Homo sapiens: one gene and its partner. Each later gene encodes a partner of the first gene's protein in a complex. Each region holds a gene or a part of one and is shown on either strand. Other genes may lie near its edges. A codon is read from its position in the direction of its gene.

Region 1 (7,021 bases):
AATGAATACTGGATACAAATTAGATGTTCAGAGAGTTTATCAATGTGTCTAAAAACCATCCAGGAAAACAACAGGCCAAGACTCTGCCTGCAGAGTCAGTGAGCTAGAAGAGGGATCGAGGATAGGAACTATATTTTTCCCCTGACCCTATCTCTTATCTGCTAGAGCAAAAGGAGACACACAGTAGGTGCTCAATAAATACATGTTAAAAAATATTTGTTGAAAGAAGCCACAGAAGGGAATATCAGTATACATTAGTATTGAAAACAGCCTAGGGGGAAATATGGATACTGAAGCACCACCCTCCTGTGCCTGGCAAGCAAGGCAAGAATAAGGCCATTCTTGGCACATACCACTTAGCCTGTTGCTGAGATAACTTGCGTGAAACCAGCACTTTACCCTCTGCCAGCCAGAAGGTCAGCCCAAGAGTGAGCTGATCTGTGGGCACAACACCATCTCTCACCCAGGAGGCTGGGCCCGCTGTAAGCTCTGCTATATTATTTCCCTGAGGATGACAGGTGGGGAAATCTGGGCACCAGTTGTTCTTTTCCACTGGTATCATTTGGAAGGTAGCTCCAAAGTCGGGCACGCCAGCCTACGTGCCTCTCCTGCCGGCAGAGGCTCCACATTGGAGCTATTAGAATGTGGGCTCTGTACGTCGGCCAAGTCCATGTCTCAGAGACTGTATCCAGAGCATAGCGTGGCCACAGGGCTACTGAGTTCAGCAAGAGAGTCATTCTCTTGTTCAATCCATTATTGCCTGGGCCAAGGTTCTAAGTCTTCGTAGGCAGCATTTGATTTTATGACACGTCTTAAAAAATTAAGGCAAACTGGAATTAATTTAGTTTTGAGAAAACAACAGAAGCTGCTACAAGGCAGAGATAATTCTAGGCTGCCAGAAAGTGGTGATCTCAGTGGTGTACATTTTCTTAATTCCTGATTTTCCTCTTTGTGAGGTCTTCCTCCCACTCCCATACTTTGCACATTCTCACCTATGCACACCCTGAGCAACACAATGTTGACAACTTGACTTAGCATTGCTCTTTTCTTAAGCTTTGTTTTCATTTCTTCTTCAATACAACAGTGTTGGTTCATTCAATTTGAACACTCAAGGCAAAAAAAAAAAAAAAAATCCCAGGTTATGTTTTCAGAATCTTACCTTTTTGTTTTTGTTTTGAGGGTTCTGTGAGTTTTGTGGCATATTTACATTGTTGCTTACATTCTTATTTCAGAATTTAAGATAAAAACTGGGCAACAACTCTCACGTTTTCTGAGTGTGTTGAAATGAAAAATCTGTTTCTTAGAATTAATGGTAAAGCAACATTTCCTGTCAATCTTTCATTCTTTAATATTACTTCTGGGTTCAGCTCACCATCTCTAAAGAGAAAGCCAGATGATCAAGTTACATTGTATGTGACATTAACTATCTCTTTATCTGTGTAAATGTCATAATATCTGCTTGCAAAGTGTTTTATTCATTTTTAGGAAAAAATTTTAAACTGTGCTTGCAATTCAGGATGGTGCTACTAGGTGGCAGTAATGTACAAGAACTATGTGGTCGCCCTGGAAGAGTATTTGACTAAGAGACTAGCATGCCTTCCCGTAATTATAAGAAATAAAAATATAATATTTTTAAAATACTCAAACTGGCACAAACAGTAAACATCCATTAACTTAGTTACCATATTTAAGCTGAGCTTTTAAAAGAGAAAGCCTTATTTTTTAATGAAATTTTAAATAAAGTATACATTCACAAGCTCAAAAATCTAAAAATACGAAAAGATATATAGTGAAAAGTCTTTCTCTCATGCCTGTCCCTCAACTACCACAGGTAACTAATTTTGTTAGTTTCTTGGGTATCCTTTCAGAGCTTTGCTATACAAATATGTGTTTTTATCTCTCTCCATTTTAACTCAAATCAATACATAGAGTTTCTGCATCCTTCCATATATAGTTGGTTAGTATATTGTTGTGTGAACATTTTAGAATATAATTAACCAGTCCCCTATTAATGGATATTTCATGCTGTTTCCAATTTTATGCTATTTCAGCCATGTGCTCATGTGATTTCACATGTAGGATAATTCACAGAAGTGGAATTGCTGGGTCTAAATTATATACATTTGCATTTTTAAAAGGTATTGCCAGATTGGCCTCTACAGAGTTTGGACCAATTTATACTGAACTTTCTCCAAAATGGACTTGTTTTCCCACAGCCTTGCCAATAGGGTGCATGATCAGACTTCGGAATCTTTGTAAATCTGATTGGTTGAACAATGTATTTCAAAGTACTTTAATTTTCATTCTCTTAAATGAGACTTTTATTCTCTTAAATTCTCTTCTATCTTTAAGGGCCCTTTATATTTCCTTTTTCTGTGGAGAAAGTGGAAATGCCAATAAATACAACGATGCATACACATGTATAGGGTTTTGTTATTGATGTAGCTTGTTTTTGCCATCATGCTGTACATGATGTTCTTTAATTTGCTTTGCTCATTTAACCATACCTCCTGGCCATGGCTCTGAAGAGAAGTTGCTGGCAGTGCAGAAGAAGGGCCAGGACTGGAATGTCTGCTTCTCTCTTCATCCTTTTGCCATTGACTCCTGGGGGAAATATCTGTAGACCGAAGCAGTGAAATCTAATCAATTCTCTTTCTGACACTAATTAAGGCTTCAAAGAGACAGATAACCACTTGGGATAATTTAGTCACAGTGAAACTTGGGAAATGGTCAGTAATATTTCATCCTCTGAAAGTGGACCCCAAGAAAGTTCTGGCTCTTTGAGTTGTTGTCTTGGTAATTTTCAGGGTAACGTGTATAGGAAAACCCAGATTATGCAGATGAAAAGAAAACAAACATGCTCTTCTGCATCCTTTGCAGATTTGAAACTTTGGGCACAGGTTTGATTTATTTCAATGAGATGTTGCTATTAGCATGAACATAAAGTGGTGCAAAGTTGTGCTGGAATATGGTCTCGTCAACTTTGGGCTCACTGTCTGCATATGGAGATGATAGTAACTGAATCCATAGTTATCAAGTGGTGGCATTTTAGAACACAAAGGGACAGCAGATGCCATCTCTGTCAACTCCTTCCCTCTACAGATGAGGAAACTTGGGCTAGAGGAGGTTGAATGACTTGTGTAAGGCTTCCCCAGCTAATTAATGGCAGTGCCAGGACTCAAGTCCAGGTGGGTTCCCTCATTACTGGTCCTTGCCCTTCCTGCAATTTATAGGACTTCCCTGAGGCACATGTGCTGAGGCTTTGCTATTGCCAGGGATTCTGTGCTCTGAAACAGCCCTATCTCACACACCCCTTTCCACTTAGGATCCCCTACCTCACACTTCCAAGACAGCTAATTGAGGCTAAATGGGTCTGATGCCATTCTATTAGTGCAAAATAAATTGGCTTATGCCAACTTGAACTCCTAATCTTGATTTTATCAACACTTTGCCCTGTTTATTCAGACTGTTCATGAGTAGGAAGTTAAGGAAAATGTTGCCTATGAACAAAATGATCAAACTTTTATCTGAAATACCTTTGAAAGTTTTCCCGAAGCTTTAATTATCATGTTCCTTTTGTTTTGGATGTAATAGCAGGCCCTCCCAATTTTCCTAAATGTTTGAAAATATTTTTGATACTTTCTGTCTTCTGTTGTGGTTAAAAAAAAGAAGGCACCAGTGTTGGCTATGCCTGGGGAGTTAGTGAGGTAATCTGGAGAGATCTCTGGACCCCAGTCCTTTGTCCAAGAGGTATGGTCAAAAGAACAAAGCAAATTTCAGAAAAACCGGTATAATATGATCCTATTTTAATGGTAAGTCTGTTCCAACAACTGCTTTCTTTTTCGAATTACACCATGTGCCCAGGCTACAAAGGCTCTGCAGAAATGTGACTCTGTTGGCAAATACGCGTGTGATACCTTAACCATGCTGGAGGCCAGTTAGCATAATGTGTATTTCAGATGCAGTTTGTCATCAGTGCTGGGTGCTATGGGGCTTAAAACAAAAACAGGATGAGCCTAGAGCACAGAAGTGGAAAATTAGGTGGGTGGGTGAGTATGGACTTGGAAATGGAAAATGTGCTTCCCTGTGGGACATGGCTTGTGTTCATTAGTGCTGACCTGCCTCCTCTCTAGCCCTGTAAGCTGACGCTGACACCAAAGCTTGCTGAGAAACTGAATAGACCCTCCCGCCCCGACCAACCAAGGACAAAGATGAGACCACCCAATTCGGTTACGTTGTTGCCAGAACAACATGTTTAATCTTTAACATGGGTTCAAACTATTCTTGGCCCTAGGAACATGGACTTCAGCAATTAAAGTCAACATGTGCTTCCATTAAACCATTGTGTCCACCTCCAAATGGTTATAAATATGTAGCATAAGCTATGGGAGTTGGGGTGGAATGGATGACAGCCTTTGCTAATGACGCTCTAGAAACCAATATTCTCCTCTCAAAATAACATGGAAAAATTCTACTTAATACCTCCTGGGTTCCATTAGTGGTTCTGGGTAAATAATTCTGGGGAAAGTAATTTCTGTTTTCATTCCAGCTGTGCAGCAGATACTGTGATGATGGATTGCAAGTGCAAAGAGTAAGACAAAACTCCAGCACATAAAGGACAATGACAACCAGAAAGCTTCAGCCCGATCCTGCCCTTTCCTTGAACGGGACTGGATCCTAGGAGGTGAAGCCATTTCCAATTTTTTGTCCTCTGCCTCCCTCTGCTGTTCTTCTAGAGAAGTTTTTCCTTACAACAATGAGAAAACATGTACTAGCTGCATCCTTTTCTATGCTCTCCCTGCTGGTGATAATGGGAGATACAGACAGTAAAACGGACAGCTCATTCATAATGGACTCGGACCCTCGACGCTGCATGAGGCACCACTATGTGGATTCTATCAGTCACCCATTGTACAAGTGTAGCTCAAAGGTAAGACCAAGGTCTCTGTGAGGAGAGCATTTCCCTCAGAAACAGGCAAGAAGCCATATTTCTTTGTCAGGGGATGGAGAACTAAGATCATAGCCCAAACTTAAGTGATGTGGCTGGCCCACAGGGCTTGTGGGAGAATGAGGCTTTTAGAATTTCCCCCCGTGCTTTGCACTGTTATCAGTAAAAGTGCCTAATCAATCATGTGCACACCCATCCAGTGGGACAGGTGTCCTTTGTCCCTGGCTGTGATGTTTATGAGTGGTAGTGTGCTTTTCCAAAAAAGAAAAATGGAGTTTACAAGTCATCATAACTCTCTAGCTCCATCATCAATAAAGAGGAAGAGAATGCAAAGAATGCGATTGAGCAGTGGAACATACTTCTTGGAGGGCTCTTTAAAGAGATTCTTGGTGAAATAACTGGCTTTGTGGTCTGAGCCTTTCTTCAGGTGCTACATTTCTGTTCAAATGATTTCAAAAGATAAGATGGCAATATGATCATTTATCATTTTTACATTGCTTATCCAAATCGTTCTCATTTGGAAAAGGATGCATGTTTCTTGCAGAGGCAGTCCGTGCCTCAGTGGTGTGCAAGGGAATATCATGCTTAAAAGGCCACCAAGAGTGGCCAGCTACATGGACCACCCAGAAGGGAGGCACATTGTAGGGTGGAACATACGAGATCTCACGACTGTCACTGCCCCTAAACAGGCACAATGAATGAAATTTGTCCACACTTGGTAAATAATAATTTGTTTAGCCCAACCTCAGAGATTTTTACATTTAGTTTTGAGATGAAAATCACTTAAACATTCTCGTATGGCAAGTAATTTTTGAAATTACCAGTATAATTAAGAATTTTTTATAGTATCAATCACCAGAATTAAGACCATATAAGCCAATCCCTCCACTCTCCATTCAAAAACATTATGACTTTTGTATGCCTTGAAAATTTCCATTAATTTCTCTGATTATAGCTCAGTGATGATGATTCATTTTAGTTTAGGAGGATCAGAATTCGAGTTAAATCATTTTAACCATTATATTAATAAGATCTATGACTGTGGGAAAAAATAGAGATTTTCCACTTAATAAAAACTTTCTGGCTCTTATTTGTGCTTGTAGAACCAAAAAAAAATGGAGTAAATAGATGAACATAAATTTTTGCAGGGCCACAATTCCTTCTTAGGAAAGGGAAACTAAAACAAATTGAGAAAAAACATGAGAAGTGCTTTTACAAGTGTGATTGCTCAGAAATTGTGGGCCCATGTAAGGTTGACTGCAGCAATTATTAGTTTCTCCTTCCCTCCCCCTTCAGAAACAGACAGCATGAATATTTAGTGATTTTATTCCATGGATAATTTCTTTCCGTATTGAGTTGTCCTCCATAATCGTGATTCTTTTTTAAAAAAAGGAATTAAAATTATTTCAAAGAAAGTGTCACTATGATGATAGAAAGGAACAAAGAAATAGGAGCATCTATAAAAACTAGAAAACAATCTGGAAAGACTGGACAAAATGATGGAGGAGTACTTTGGCAACAATCACATTAATCTAGCGAAGGTCAAAGAAGAGACATCATGAACTCAAACCGAAGAAATTCACATGTGAATTCTGAGCATGAGTCTTAGAAACAGACTTTAGTGTACTGTTATTCACCTTTGTTTCTTCCAGAAAGCCATGGCAAATAACAGCGCAAAATTGTGATAGCAGGAGAAATGTTTGTAATTTCATGGGAACAATCTGTTTTCAAACATCCCAAACTATCCCAAATATAGCAATAGTTTTATGTAAATGGTGCTTGCAATTATAAACCTTTCTTCCCTGGCCATAAAATATGCCTGGCAAAATCTCAACTACCCAGACCTTTTCTAGGTTAGATTTTTCTCTATGTATCCAGGAGCAAAACTGTTTTCATTTGGAAATGTTCTATAATTCTTAACTCTTACATTCTCGGGCTGATCTTTTCTCTAATGGGTCTCACTTAATGAAATTGTTTGCCTTTAGAGACTTGGATAAAACATTTAGCCTATGTCTAGAAAAGAGGCAACAACAATCTACCCTAGCTTCTTTTTACAAAGAAAAGACTGGGATA
Region 2 (7,510 bases), on another chromosome or scaffold:
AGACACATGCCGCCGCATGGGCCAATGGGGATGTTGATCTTCTCTGTGCACATTGGCACATAAACAGAACAAAGGAAGAACTGGAAAAGTAACAAAATGAACACACACAAAAAAAACAATGACTTGGAAGTTTGACCAAATGCTCCCACAAAGCTGAGTTGAATGCTTCCAGGCAATCTAGGTATCTACTTTTAAACCAACCTATCGGGAGTCTGTCTGTTTACTCTGACCTCAAACAAGGGCGCCTGATAATCCATCACTTACATACTTTTCTTAGTTTGGCTTTAGTAATCCTTTCCAGAAGAATGTACATAAATAAATAAATAAAATAAATAGGGTCTGAAGAATTGCATAAGCCCTCTTTGCACAACACTTGAAATAAATCTTAAAAAACTGGCTTTCAATCTCCTTCCATTTTAGAAACTATTTGAAAAAGCTAAAGAAACTAATATGACTCATTTAGGTGGTTTATTTTTATCCCCGTTTCTTTATCATTTTAAAAATAAAAGTTAAAAAAAAATGTAGATCCTGTTAGTATTCTCTTCTCCCTAATTTATCCCTTAAAAATTTGTTTAAACTAGTCCCATACTGAAACAAAAAATGGCCCAAATGAGACACTGTTAGACTCAAGGATGGGATGCAGATTGAGGTCTCTGGTCACTAGGGATTTGTTTGGCCAGGTTTCCTCAATGAATAATAATGAAGCACAATAGGAAAATGTAAATGTTAAGTCGCTGAAACTGCAGTACCAGCAGGGGAGAGTCCAGTTGCTGTCCTCAATTCCTCCAGCATTGATAAACAGTCTGCTTGGCTCCTTACAGATGTTGTCTATGAAGTCTAGAGTTACAAGTAACTATTTTCCAGCATGTAAAGGGATCCAGTCTTGTCCTTCAAAACAGCTTGGCCGCTTTCCCCAGGATACATGTAATTAAAAATATATATCCCTGCAAAAGCTGTTTCTCCAACAAATTGCCACTGATGTCAGGATATGTGCTGTTTCCAAACTGAGAGCTGGAGGATCATTTCTTAAGCTTTTATAACCTAGTTCTAAAGTTCTGAAACTTCCAAAGGGATATTTTAGCAGCAACAGGTCTAATCCCCACCATCTTTCCAAAACCACAAACCAAGTTTTAAAATGACCTATGTAAAAACATGCACCTAGTAAGTAAGCTGTATGTCTGTTTATTATCTCTCAGAAGTTACAGCCAGAACCACAGATTTCTTTTCTTTTCTTTTTTTTTTTGATACGGAGTTTCGCTCCTGTGGCCCAGGCTAGAGTGCAATGGTGCAATCCCCGCTCACTGCAACCTCTGCCTCCTGGGTTCAAGCGATTCTCCTGCCTCAGCCTCCTGAGTAGCTGGGATTACAGGCGCACGCCACCACGCCCGGCTAATTTTTGTACTTTTAGTAGAGACAGGATTTCGCCATGTTGGTCAGGCTGGTCTCGAACTCCTAACCTCGTGAGCCACCTGCCTCGGCCTCCCAAAGTGCTGGGATTACAGGCGTGAGCCACTGCGCCCGGCCAGAAACCAGATTTCTGAAGCCTGGACAACTAACGTCTACTTTTTCCCACAACTTCTCTCTTTTCTAAATTTCTAAAAATCACCCAGCCTCACCAACCCAAACATAACCAATGTTAACACTTTAAAAATTTTCCTGTCAGTCTTTTATTATCCCAATAAATTTTTTATTTTGCAGGATTATAATCACCCTGTATATGCAAATTCTTATTACTGTGGAATAAACATTTTCTCTATCATTAGATATGCTTTACATTTTTTAATGACTGCAAAAAAATTTCTTCCAATATACCAACCACCTTCCTGCAGCTTCTTCTCACCCTCCAAGCATTAAACGTGCCTTCAACTGTGAGGATAAGAAAGAACTCAAGCCAACCCAACCACTCCTTCATGCATGACCTCTAAAACGCTGCGGGACGTCGTGAGAAGGGGCTATTCAGCAGAAAAAGGTGCAGTAGTGTTTCATTTAATAACACCCCAAAAATAGTGGGGAGAAGGAAGTTCGGTGAAGGATGGTCTCCTTATCACTCCCTCCAAGTCTTAGCTGCAGCTGGCTCCCTCCCACTCGCCCACCGAGCAGTGGCGGCCAGAATCCTTGGCAGAGATAACCCTCAGCTCCACTGGGGTTAGGGGTCTGGGCCAGACATGGGTGGGCAAGAGAGAAAAACGGAAGGGCGGGGTGTAAGAGTGGGTTCTTTCCCAGGCCAGATGACTTACACAACGTTTTGGCTTCCAGTCCCTGAGAAAGTGGGGGTGGGGATGGAAATCACTTTTCCAGGAGAGCTGTCTCCTTCGGGCTAGGATGATCAACTTGGCATGGGCTCTGCAAAGTTAGTTTGGAGCGTCCCTCCCCAAGGGGTCCCGCCAGGGGTGGGGGTGGGGGCGCCCACCTGCAGCTGGCTGGAGCAGCCGTACTGGATGAGCGGTGTGAAAGTTGTCAGCTGCAGCTCGGCGTCCGTCTGCAGCTCGTGCCCAACCAGGTTGGGCATCTTGGTCACGTTGTAGCCGAGGTTCTGGCACATGGAGATGCGGATGGGGTCGCAGCGCCGCTCTTCCTCGTCCCCGAAGCCCCGCGCCGGCCCCAGGAGCAGCAGCAACTGCAGGAGCAACCCCAGACTGAGACCGACGCCCCCGGGCGCCCCCGGGACGCTCGGCCCTGCGCCCCGCCAGGCCATGGCCAGCATCGGGGGTAGCAGCGGCAGCGGCTGGGGCTGCTCTGGCAGACACCCCCAGTTTGCACGGGGGCGCCGGCTGCCCGCGCTGCTCCCAGCTCCCGGGACGGGAGTGTGATGCGGCGACGAGGGGGCAGCGGCCGGCTCTCCAGCAGCTGCGCGCGACTGTGTGGGATTTTAGACGTCCCGGGCCGAGGCCGAGGGACAGGCTGCGAGGGTCATGGCTGCAGGCGGCGAGCCCACAAGCCGGCGCCGGCCGCGTCCGTTCGGCGTCTCCGCGAGGCCAGCCAGCAGCCAGCGCTGCGCAGCTCTCACCGCCGGAGCCCTGCGCGGCGCTGGAGGCTCGCGGCGCGGCGGCGGGGCGGGACGGACAGCGGGCCTCTCCAATGGCCGGGCGCGGTGGGCAGCTAGGGGCGAGGCGGCGGGGCGGGGCCGCTCTCCCGCAGGAGGAGTCAGGCCCCCGCCCTCCGGCCCCCTCCTCCGGCCGCCCCTCCCTCCCTCCCTCCCCTAGCGCCCCGCCCCGCCCGCCTCCCGGCTCTTGCTTTCCTCCCACCCGGATCTAGGCGCGCAGGGGCCAAGCAGGGACGCAGCCCAGTGGCTCCAGCCACGCCGTCCTGCCCCCTTCTGCAGGTGAGAAGTGCGCCCTGTTCCATCTGCCCCCTTTCCTTCCTGTCTCCTTTCAGCTGTAACCTAGGCCGGTGGCCACCTCCCCGTCAGGCAGAGAAACGTACACAAAGAATTGGGGATTTGGATTTACACCGATTGTGGCTTTCAGTCCCGGTTGTGTGACCTTGAGCAAATTGCTCAACCCCTCGGCGTCAGTCTCCTCTGTAAAGTCACTTGGGAGGATTAGAGATAAAGTGTAGAAGGCTTAGCATGGTGCCTGGTACTGCGTGAGTCCACAGCTATTTTCACTCCGGACCAGCGGCGATCGGGGCCCGGCCTCTCCCCGCCCCCAGACTCGCCCGACCTGCGCAGGGAGCCGCCCACCTCCAGCCGCCAGCGGGGAGGCGCCCCAGAGCTGCGGAGCTGCAGACCCGCCGACGGTCTCGCGCTCTGATTTCCTCACCGTATGAAATGAAATTCCACAGGGGGATTCGAAAGGAAATGAGACCGGGACTCTCCGTGCTTCTCGGCCCGCCGCCCTTCCTGTCTCGGGGACACGGTTTCTAAATAAGGTTGGGAGGGTGAGAGGGCGGGAGGGGAGAGGCTTGACCTGTGCACTGGGGACGAGGAAGGCGCACAACCACCGTGACTCCTCTCTCCCGGCCTCCCGGGCACCCCCTCCCCACCAGGCTGCACCCCTTTTTTTCTTTGCTTCTGCTTCGGCTCCTAGGGATCTGGGGATCATGTGACCCAGGTTTGAACCCAACTTTCCTGTCTCATTACCAGCCCCCCGCGGCTTTGTGCTGGTCCACCCTCTCTCTGCTTTCCAGTCGGCCAGTAAACTCCCAGCAGGTGGATTCCTCCACCGTTTACTTGTTGCTTGACTGTGTTGAAGCTATGGTGCCTCTCTGAGCCTCAAAGTGGCCGGCTGTAAAGTGGGGAAGTTCATATCCACCTCACACAGTTGTTCTAAGAGTTCAGTGAGATAATACCTGTAAATCATTTAGCAGTGTCTGACACATAATAAATGCTGAAGAACTTGGTGATTGGGGTGTGTGTGTGTGTGTGTGTGTGTGTGTGTGTGTGTGTATGTGTTTCCAAAACAGCTAGGGGAGATCAATTATGGGACAGCCTCCTGCTTTCCAGCCTGGTGCTAAAGACAGCTCCAGCAGCCCCGGAATGAGGATCTGGGTAAAAGGCTTTTCACCCTCTTCCTGAGATCTTTTTGTCCAACACTTGCCACTGTTTTATGCATGTTTTTATCCTCCCATTTCAGCCAATTCTGTGGCATATGGCAGAGGCTAGATGCAAGTTGGAAGAATGTCTGTGCCACTCATGTGACACTCATATTCTGTCTTGTATTTTTAGTCTTCTTATATTGGCAACGAGACTTGACTGAGGGCAAAAATGGAATCAACTTTTTTTTGGTATTTGGCTCTGTGCCTAGAACTGTGTTGGACACGGAGAAGCTGCATTGTCTCCAGTCATCATCATAAACTCCCAGTGAAGGAGGTTCCGTTAGCTCCTTATAGAGATTAGGAAACTGAGGCTAGAACCACAGTAATAGAAAATGACAAGACCAACCAAACCAGGGCCCAGAAGAGGCTCTTCAAAGATGGAAGGCAGGGCTATTTTCCCAGAAAAAATTCCCAGCTGGAAATCAATGTACTCAGCAATAGGATTGAATCTCTGTGTGCCTGTGCTGAGTAATGCATAAAACCCTTGGCCTACAGAGATGAATAAACGATCAGATGTAGAGATCAAATGATCTATTAATCATTTGGGTTACAGAGATGAATATATAATCAGATGAACAGATCAAATGAATAGATAATCCTCATCCTTTAGGATCTCACAGGAGGAGACAAAGGATTAACAAACAACAATAACTTAGTTTGCTAAGTGCACAGATAGAGAATTGTGGGTGAATTGAAGGTAGAAGTGGCTGAGTCTGGAGGGCTACTCAAAGGGGGATGACCTGCAAGACTCGTAGCTACTCAACAAAGTGTAGTTAGTATGCAATTGGCCCTTCTTCTAGGGAAGAGTGGTGGTGGTGGGGTGTGCTTTGTGCTGAAGATATGGTTACATGGTTTATTAAACAGTGAACTCCCTGAGGTCAAGGAGGAGGACCTGTCCCTCATACAGGGCCTGGCACACAAGGAACATCATTTGTTCTGGGTGAAGGAATACTGTTTTCAAATCAATAACAAACCACTCATATAGAACTCTTACTTTCAGACACTGTGTTACATGCCTTACATTCTTAATTTTATTTATTTCTCACAACTTGCAGAAACTGATGCTCTGAGAGGCCAAGCAGTTTGCCCAAGATTACACAGTAAGTCGTAGAGAAGAACTCATGCATGTCTGCCTGGCCCTAAACTCTGTGTGCATGGTACTGCTCTTGCAGAGGAAACTGCTTCACGCCCAGCCTAATCCATAGTTAAAGATGACCATTTTGTGATCTGGACCTCTTATTCCTAGACCTGGCATCCTGCCTCAGCTTGCTTGAAGCAATTGTCTCCTTTGAGAACACATGAAGAAGCCCCTTCCCTATCAGAAGCTTTTTCTGTCAACAGCTTTTCTTTCTAGTCGTGGAACTCATCACCAGTATTTTCCAAAAAAGAAAGCTAGGGGAATCACATTTCAGTCTGAATGTGGAAAGACAACAAAGACCATAACTTAGAGCTAAATCTGAATGGCCTGGAGCCCCTCAGCCTCCCTCTCCTGGAGTGGTTTACACAGTCCACAATCTGCCCCTGGTGACAGGCATGGCATGTTTGTCTTTGTTACAGAAAACACTTCCCGAGGGAGTCCCAGGCAGAGGGATATCCACCCTGTGACATGCACAGCATTTCTGAGAGGAAAAGATAGGGACACCTGAATAAAGTGTAGGCCATGGGCCCCTGCTAACTCTGGCTTGAGTGCCTGGGCAGTTTCCTTGGTCCAGCCTCTGAGCAGTAAAGATTCAACTACTTTGGAGCTGCAACAAACATGACTTCAACAGTCTGTTGGGCAGTTGGAGGGCTCTCCATTTGTATCTAATAAGAGGCTGGGTTCTTATTAACTCCGGTGATGTGTTAATTTTTCAACCTGACGTTTTCTGCTCTAATAGATTCTTGTAATGCTTACTAAATTAAAGGCTGCATTGGAAGAGTAATGTTTAGGTTAAAATGCATCACCTAAGGGGGTGGAAGCTATAAACATCCTTTCCCTCCTACGGGAAAATCTCTCATTTGCGGCTCTTTGCTAACCCAATTAAGTGCTGAAGTAGTTACCCTAGAGCCTGCTTTTTATTTCCTATGAAACAATCCAACTAATCCATATTCAGTAGCTTCCAAGAAAAGTCTTATTCCAACCACTCATGAAGAAACCAGCTTCTTTGAATCTAGATAGAACATTTAGAACTCACAAAGAGCTGTCTTGATGGAAAGTGCAAGAAAGTGGTTCATTATTATCTGCCTGGTTTTTGAGGGAAATAATTCACTGGGACTAAAACCCCATAAGTATTGGGAATTTACTGTGGAACAACAAAAGCAAAGCAAGAAGATGCCATGCCACATTCCATCCATTTATAAATAGGGTGTTACATCTCCCCCTGCACCCAAACTAGTTATAAAACAAAAGTGCGCCTGCTGAGTAAGGTGGAAGGGAACACTGATCTTACTTCGAGCTGAGGAATCAAAGTTCCCAAGAGATTAATACCTATTAAGTGGCAGAGCCAAACTCCCTTCTTAGTCCATTGCACCACTAGCTAGCAGAGAAGAATTGTCACCACAGAGCTCTTGCATGTCAAGAAATAGAAGCTCAAAATTTTTCCTACCCATAAGTTTAGCAAGCATTAAATGGTACATCAGACATCCTTATTTATTGGTGGTGATGAGTTAACGCAAAGATGAACAACCAAAAACCTCCATGGAAGGCAAAAAATAATGCAAACACACTTTTACCTCCATAGCCTCGTTTCGTTTCAGTGAAATTGATCAGTCAAGCTGTTAACAAATATTTAGTGATGGGTTATTGTGGACATGTCATTGAGCTGGGTACTAGGGAGTATGCAGACATGTTAAAGGTGGTTTCTGCCTTCAAGGAGCTTACAGTCACATTGGGGAAGATTAAGACATGAGACCAAGGGCAAAACAAGTTTTTTATGGTTAAGTGCATTTTGTTGAGCTTTCTTATTTCCAGTCTCCCCTTGTTGTTTTACATAAG

Evidence for each region. The genes of interacting proteins can lie anywhere in the genome.
Region 2: the proteins of NDP (region 1) and FZD4 are in contact, whole or in part, in a crystal structure (PDB 5BQE), measured with the Homo sapiens proteins. Residues at the interface, in NP_000257.1 of Homo sapiens: Asp33 (codon at 4,853), Ser34 (codon at 4,856), Pro36 (codon at 4,862), Arg38 (codon at 4,868), Met40 (codon at 4,874), Arg41 (codon at 4,877), His42 (codon at 4,880), His43 (codon at 4,883), Tyr44 (codon at 4,886), Val45 (codon at 4,889), Asp46 (codon at 4,892), Lys58 (codon at 4,928), Met59, Val60, Leu61, Lys102, Lys104, Leu106, Tyr122, Leu124, Ser125; in NP_036325.2 of Homo sapiens: Ser51 (codon at 2,545), Met52 (codon at 2,542), Gln54 (codon at 2,536), Asn55 (codon at 2,533), Leu56 (codon at 2,530), Gly57 (codon at 2,527), Gln95 (codon at 2,413), Phe96 (codon at 80), Met105 (codon at 53), Thr107 (codon at 47), Lys109 (codon at 41), Ile114 (codon at 26), Asn152, His154, Met157, Cys158, Met159, Glu160, Gly161, Pro162.

What each region holds. Positions count from the first base shown.
Region 1 is NC_000023.11:43,956,381-43,963,401, reverse strand, and holds part of NDP (norrin precursor), read left to right. Parts: intron 1-2,507; exon of another isoform or gene 2,508-2,617; intron 2,618-4,549; 5' UTR 4,550-4,756; coding exon 4,757-4,930; intron 4,931-7,021. UniProt on the Homo sapiens protein: Activates the canonical Wnt signaling pathway through FZD4 and LRP5 coreceptor.
Region 2 is NC_000011.10:86,952,391-86,959,900, forward strand, and holds the start of FZD4 (frizzled-4 precursor), read right to left. Parts: upstream 3,006-7,510; 5' UTR 2,696-3,005; coding exon 2,411-2,695; intron 521-2,410; exon of another isoform or gene 81-520; coding exon 1-80. UniProt on the Homo sapiens protein: Receptor for Wnt proteins.